Homo sapiens: one gene and its partner. The protein of the gene in region 1 interacts with the protein of each later gene in a pairwise test. Each region holds a gene or a part of one and is shown on either strand. Other genes may lie near its edges.

What was found. The genes of interacting proteins can lie anywhere in the genome.
Region 2: the proteins of RHOBTB2 (region 1) and PPM1D interact in a two-hybrid assay, tested with the Homo sapiens proteins (one large-scale study listed by BioGRID and IntAct).

What each region holds. Positions count from the first base shown.
Region 1 is NC_000008.11:23,006,048-23,009,547, reverse strand, and holds part of RHOBTB2 (rho-related BTB domain-containing protein 2), read right to left. Parts: coding exon 3,403-3,500; intron 2,821-3,402; coding exon 1,802-2,820; intron 1,556-1,801; coding exon 1,437-1,555; intron 1-1,436. UniProt on the Homo sapiens protein: Regulator of cell proliferation and apoptosis. It likely functions as a substrate-adapter that recruits key substrates, e.g. MSI2, to CUL3-based ubiquitin ligase complexes for degradation. Required for MSI2 ubiquitination and degradation.
Region 2 is NC_000017.11:60,662,693-60,666,192, reverse strand, and holds part of PPM1D (protein phosphatase 1D), read right to left. Parts: intron 3,199-3,500; coding exon 2,641-3,198; 3' UTR 1-2,640. UniProt on the Homo sapiens protein: Involved in the negative regulation of p53 expression. Required for the relief of p53-dependent checkpoint mediated cell cycle arrest.

The DNA of each region.
Region 1 (3,500 bases):
AGTTACAGAACAGTAGGGGAAACGGTGTGGACGTTCAGAACTCCACGCGCCTGCACAAAGTCGAACCTCGTTAACTACAAGGTTCGACGACACTCAGTGATGGGCAATTGAGGTCCAGGAGTTCAGAGCACACCAAGGGCTACTGCCCAGGCTACTCTGCTTGGAATGGAAAAGAGACCAAACCTAAGAGAATATTTCTAAGGACACATTGATAGGCTTCTTCCAACCCTAAGTTTCCAATCTAGGTGAGTGAGAAAGTGGTGGCATCGTGAGAGCTAGAGGGTCACTGATTAGAGAGGCAGGTGGTTCTATTAAGTATGCTTTTCCTTCCCTTCCTCCCTCCCTCCCTCCCTTCCTTCTTTTCTCTCTCTCTCTCTTTTTTTCTTTTTTTCTGTAGAGATGGTGTCTGTGTTTCCCAGGCAGGTCTCAAACTCCTGGGCTCAGGCAATCCTCCCACCTCAGCCCCTCAAAGTGCTGGGATTACAGGTGTAAGCCACCCCCTACACCTATTTTCTGTATTTTGTTGCTTTGACAACTAAAGCCTTGCTGGCCCTATAGGGACTGCCTCCCTCAGGGCTGGCCAAGTCCTAGGGATAGTGAAGGAGTTGCCTGCAAGTGTGCCTTTCATATGCAAACCAACCAATCCAGAGCCCACAGCCCACTACCTCCCCTATGGGCCCTCACACTCCAGGCCACTGTTCCCCTGCCCTAATCCCCCTAGAGCCAGGTGACAGACAACTAGAGACAGCATCCAGGCCCCAGAGCCGGCTAACATTATTCAAACAGCTAATCCTAAACCTGCTCAACCTGCCTCGCCCATTCCCTCCCACAGAAACCCTCTGCCTCCTGATTGACCCCAGAGCTTCCCCATGTGACCCCAGCCATGGTGCTGTGGCATGCCCCCTTTTCTTGGGATCTGTAACAAGTTGTCTTATCAATGACAGCCATCTTGCAATCTGTGGGCCTCTCTACACCTCAATAATAATAAAACCTATCTTTTAAAACAGTGATGCATTCAGTTGTTTCAAGTGTGTCAGGGAGGCAGTAAGGTACAAAGTAAAGAGCCAAGGAATGGAAGTCCTGAGTTCAAGTCCTAACTCTACTTCCAACTTCATACAAGTCACTTAACTTCTCAGGGGCTCCCTTTCCTAGATATACGGCAGGAGTGGCACATGTGTACGTTGCGTGTGAATTTAATGAGATAATGAACAGAAAGTGCTTTCTAAACTCTCAAGTTGAGGTGTCAGTGTAATTCCCTTTCCTGGTGTATTGTATAATCCTTAGCTCCAAGAACCACCTCATAAACCTCTCTTGGGCCCATCACCCTGTGGTTAGCACACAGTCAGTGAAGAAAGTACCCTGAGTGGCAGTGCCTCAGATGTAAAGGGTGCAAATGTCTCACTCCCTCCTTCCCCCCTTTGTGTCCTCAGCCTTACCTCCCGGGTGGAGCTCTCCACAAATGGCCCCCCAAACATGGCAGCCATCCAGTCACAGCTGGAAATCAACAGGGGCTTGTGGGCGCTGATGGTGCCATCATCCAGGATGAAGGTCACATCTGTCCAGAAGAAGCATCACAGGAGGACTGGTGAAAGAAGCTGGGAGAACAAGCCCCAAGGGGAGCCACGGAGCCTCCTCCTGAACCCAGAAGATTCGGGGCACGGAACAAACCCGCTCCCAGCTGGGGAAAACCAGGCTTCAAGAGCATGGCAGCCGCAGCTCCAGGACACCAGGAGCTGAGACAGACAGGCAATGCTAATAGCACCAATGCAGAACCCCCTTGCTTTCCAAGCCTGTTCCATACCTGAGAAGGTGCCTTTTGCCAAGCACTCCTTAACCCGGTTGGTCCGGCGGACGTGGAAGGCCTTGGTGATCTCCTGGTTCATGAAGGCCTCATTGTTGAGAATGTTGGCCACCATCATGCGCAGATCAAAGACCTCGAGCAGCTCAGCAATGTGGGCAATGTGCATGAGGTCACGCTCGTTCTCATCTAGCTCCCCCGTGTACAGGTACTTGAGGACAGCCCGGAAGGGCCCCGGCTGGATGGAACTGTCCATCTTCACCACCACCATCAGCCGGGATTTGTAGGTGAGAGGATCTTCTGCCATCTCTTCCTGGATGCTCACAAAAGCTCGGCTCCAGGAAGACAGCACACGACCCCTGCCCGGTAGGTACCCTGTTCCGTTGCCCCGTAAGATCCCGTCGCTGGTGGAAGCACGGAGGCCAGCAGGACCGGAGCCCCCAGCCTCATCCACGCTCTCGCACACGTCAAAGCTGGCTGCTCGGAGCAGGAAGTCTCGCCCATGGTGGTGGTGGTGATGGTGGTGGTGTTGATCAGAGTGGCCCTGGTGGTCCTCTGGGTGGGTGCCCCCTGGCTCCGAGGGGCCCCCCAGCTCCCCCTCACTCAGGTCCATGAGGAACAGGTCATAGAACTTGGAGGAAGAGGTGGAGAGGTAGATCTTGTGGGCAAAGATGCGCACCCGCTCCTGCAGCACCAGGATGACGTCCGCGCAGAGCGGGTCCTCCAGGAGGTGGGCGGGGCACTCCTCGCTGCTGGAGGGAGGGTCGGGCACCACGATGATCGGGGGCGGTGGCTTGGGGGGTAGGAAGGGTGCCTGCAGCAGAGGCCGCTGCACATTGCGGAGGTGGGACTTCCAGAACTGCAGGTGGCGGCGGGAGATGAGTGCAGCTCGGATGGCGTTGTCAAAGACGTCCTTGATGCCGAACTGGGCCACCACGCTGGTCTCATAGTAGGGGATGCCCAGCTCCTTGGCCACCTCCCGACCCTTCTCTGGGGGCAGGATTTCATTAGGTTTGATGGGCCTGGTAGGTTCAAGAAGGAAACCAAGCTTGTGTTGGTGGTGGAGGGAGGCTGCCTGTTCTTCCACAGGCTGGAGGGACTCTGCTCAGGATCTGGGTGCCAATCCCCACCCACTCCTGCCCTGCTCTGTCTGGCCAAATCCCATCAAGCTCCTTCAAGGTCCACTCCAAGCCCTTTTTCTTCCAGAAAGCTTTCCCTACTATGCCAGGCCCCAGTGACCTCCCCAGTACAAAGCCGTGACAGCACTGCCTCTCTGGCAATTAGCAGGCAATGCTTCACATGGGTATTTAACATGCTCACATATTTAGTTTATCCCTCAGCAAAATTATAGGACTTTTTCATGCAAATATCACCTCTTCCTCTCTATTTTTCTTCATGATGCTTTACATAGCACTGCCCACACCAGAGGTGTGCAACAGGTATATGAATGAATGAATGAATGAGCATGCTTGTTGACTCCCAATGCAAGCTTGCTCCAAATGGAGGGAGAGATATGAGGCTCAGTGGAATTCCCCCAGGGCTGAGCAGGGAGCCATGGTGAGGCACCCATCCATGTCTGTCTCCTTGGTACCAGCACCTCCTACCTAGCCAAGGGTCGCCTAGCCCTGTTGACAGCCTCCAGGTCAGCGTAGCGCAGGTCCAACTGGCAGCCCACCAAGATGACAGGTGCTCGGGGGCAGAA
Region 2 (3,500 bases), on another chromosome or scaffold:
AATAACATTGTTCATTAATGCTATTACCAAAACATAACTATTGCACACCCTACTAAAACAATGTTATACACGCTGTATTTCAGAATATCAATGCTTTTAACTTCCAGGTTGTGACAGCCTCCTTCCAGATGACACTTAAAAATGCCCACCTCCTAGAATTCATGCCTTGTGTAGGAGTCTCCCACGTTGTAGTTGACTTGGTCTGTGTGACCAACAAAATACAGAATTGGTATGACACTTTCAGAGGCTAGGTTACAAAAAACATCATGGCTTCTTCCTTGCCCTCCGGTGTTGCTTGCTCTGGGGACAAATAACTGCCATGTTGTGAGAGGCCCTCTGGAGGGGAACATGTGGCAACAAACTGAGGTCTCCTGCCAACAGCTGTGAGTCTTGCGGGAAGCAGATCTTCTAGCCCCAATGACACCTTCGAAAGATTGTAGCCCTGGTTGGTAGCTTGACCAAAACCACGAGACTATCACCCAGCTAAACCACTCTCAGATTTCTGAGGCTCAGAAACTGGAGATAATATTTGTTGTTTTAAACTGCTAAATTTCGAGATATTGTTTTGTAGCAATGAATACATATTTTAATCCTTGTGGCATAAGACACACCGATCAAGAATTATCTTCTGCAAAATATTGAAAATAACCAGAATGTGTGGACATGGTTAAATAATGGCATAGTTGGCTGGGCACGGTGGCTCACACCTGTAATCCCAGCACTTTGGGAGGCCTAGGCTGGTGGATCATGAGGTCAAGAGATCAAGACCATCTTGGCCAACATGATGAAAACCCATCTCTACTAAAAATACAAAACTTAGCCAGGCATGGTGGCACGCACCTGTAGTTCCAGCTACTCAGGAGGCTGAGACATGAAAATCACTTGAACTGAAATGTAAGAAATACATTGAAAGCATAAAACTCAGGCCGGATGCGGTGGCTCACGCCTGTAATCCCAGTACTTTGGGAGGTCGAGGCGGGTGGATCACGAGGTCAGGAGATCAAGACCAGCATGACTGACATGTGAAACCCCATCTCTACTAAAAATACAAAAATTGGCTGGGCACAGTGGCGCGTGCCTGTAATCTCAGCTACTCAGGAGGCTGAGGCAGGAGAATCGCAGGAACCCAGAAGGCAGAGGTTGCAGGGAGCCGAGATCACACCACTGCACTCCAGCCTGGATGACAGAGCTAGACTCCATCTCAAAAAAAAAAAAAAAAATTAGCCGGGTGTGGTGGCACACACCTGTAATCCCAGCTTCTGGGGAGAGAGATTGAGGCAGGAGAATCACTTGAACCCGGGAGGCAGAGGTTGCAGTCAGCCGAGATCACGCCACTGCACTCTAGCCTGGATGACAGAGTGAGACTCCATCTCAAACAAACAAACAAAATAATAAATAAATAAAATACACTCACTGTAAAGCATGATCATGGCACAACAGAATGTTAATCCAGGTTAAGCATCCCTAATCTGAAAATCCAAAATCCAAAATGCTCCAGAATCAGAAACTTTTTCAGAGCAGGCATGATGCTCAAAGGAAATGCTCATTAGAGCATTTTGAATTTCAGATTGGGAACACTCAAAAGCTCAGTATAAAGCAAATATTCCAAAATTTTAAAAAATCTGAAACACTTCTGGTCCCAAGCATTTTGGATAAGGGATACTCAACTTGTACATACCATTAAAATAAACCAACAACTACAAATTCAGCAACATGAGGAACAGTTCACTGATTTATTAGATGAATATATACCCATATAATCAATGAAAACTGTATGATATAAAATAATTTAAGAAATGTTGGGAATTAGCAGCACCATCTGTTATTGAAATAGCAAGGAAAACTTCACATATTTTAAGCAAACACGAGAAGGGAGTAACTACTTTAAGACCTAATAATGCCATTGGTCTGGGATGAAAAAGAAGGGAATTGTTTTAGATTGTTTTAGGCAAACACACTTCCTTCTATGCTGAAGATTTAGTAAGCATATCTGATGACTAAGGTTTTAGAAAAATGCTACTGATGTAAGAGATACTGCATAGTATTTTAATTGGGACAAGACTAACTGTAGCATGGCTCAACACTTCTATGAAAAATTTAGTTCTGAATTATGAAATCAGAAATAAAAAATAATGTTTAAAAGACACTTGGCTCTAAGAAACATTAAGTGAAACACAGGTCACTATGAAAATACATCACTTTTCCAGTCTGCTTAATAATTTACTTTAAAAAGTTGCACAGTTTTCAAGACAAGTGGCTTATACAAATTTTTTAATAAGTATTTTAAAAAGTTTAAATGTTTTTCTAAAATCTAATAGATTCTTTTGATTTCTTTAAACATTTAGCCCTATTGTCACAATTACTGTGTATCAGAGACTCTGAATACTGTGTATTCAGAGACTGAATTTGTGTGGATACAAATTTACACAAATTTTACAGCAACTTATACCCTAACATCTACAAAATCCACATTTACAATACAAGCAAGTACAAGGCCAGGATAAAACTGCTGAATTCCAAAAAGTCAAACTGTATATTTCTTTTAATTTTCTCCCCTTAAAAAAAGTTCAACATCGGCACCAAATTTAAAAAGCCCTCTTATATCCTAAGTTTGGAAAAACCTCATTTCCCAGATGCATTTCAGCAAACACAAACAGTTTTCCTGTGTTGATGAAGTAAAGGATTTCCAATTTTCTTCTGGCCCCTAAGTCTGCGTCGCATGGTGAGTTTAACAGAGTTCTTTCGCTGTGAGGTTGTGGGGAGACTTGCAGGCTGAGCACCACTACTTCGACTTAAGCCATTTCGTCTATGCTTCTTCATCAGGGGGCCAGAATTGGACTCTTCTAATGTCCTTTTAAAGTTTGTTGGAGGGGTTCTTTCAATTTCTTGGGCTTTCATTTGGCCAGGAGTTGACATCTTCAAATTTTTTTGGTCCATGACAGTGTTTGTTGAATTAGTAGGCACAAGGCCAATTGGAAGGCTATTATTCAAAGAATCATGTATCCTTAAAGTCAGGGCTTTAGCGCAATTTTCTTCAAGTGGTTCTGGATCTTTTGAGGGTATGACTACACCTTGGACATTCTCTCGAGCTATCTCAGCTGAAACCTCTAAAAAATTCTCTGAGAAGGCATTGCTACGAACCAGGGCAGGTATATGGTCCTTAGAATTCACCCTTGGCCATGGATCCTCCTCCAGTGACTGAAAAATAAGAAGGTAAAACAAATAAGAAAAAATTTATCCCAGAACTCAACAAATCTATGCATGTGATATTAGGCTTCTTATGAAGCTAGTAGGATGGCAAAAACGGGGTATGCATTCACTAATTCGTTCACCTTCTATTTACTGAACTATGTGTTAAGGTTTAATGGGAGGAACCTGAGTGAGAAGACAATATAAAGGTAAGAATGACATTGAATTCTGTCTTCAGGGTAATAGATGAAATTATAAAGTAATCTATTCAAGTGGGTGAAAATTCACGTGGTCACAAGCATTTTCTATCC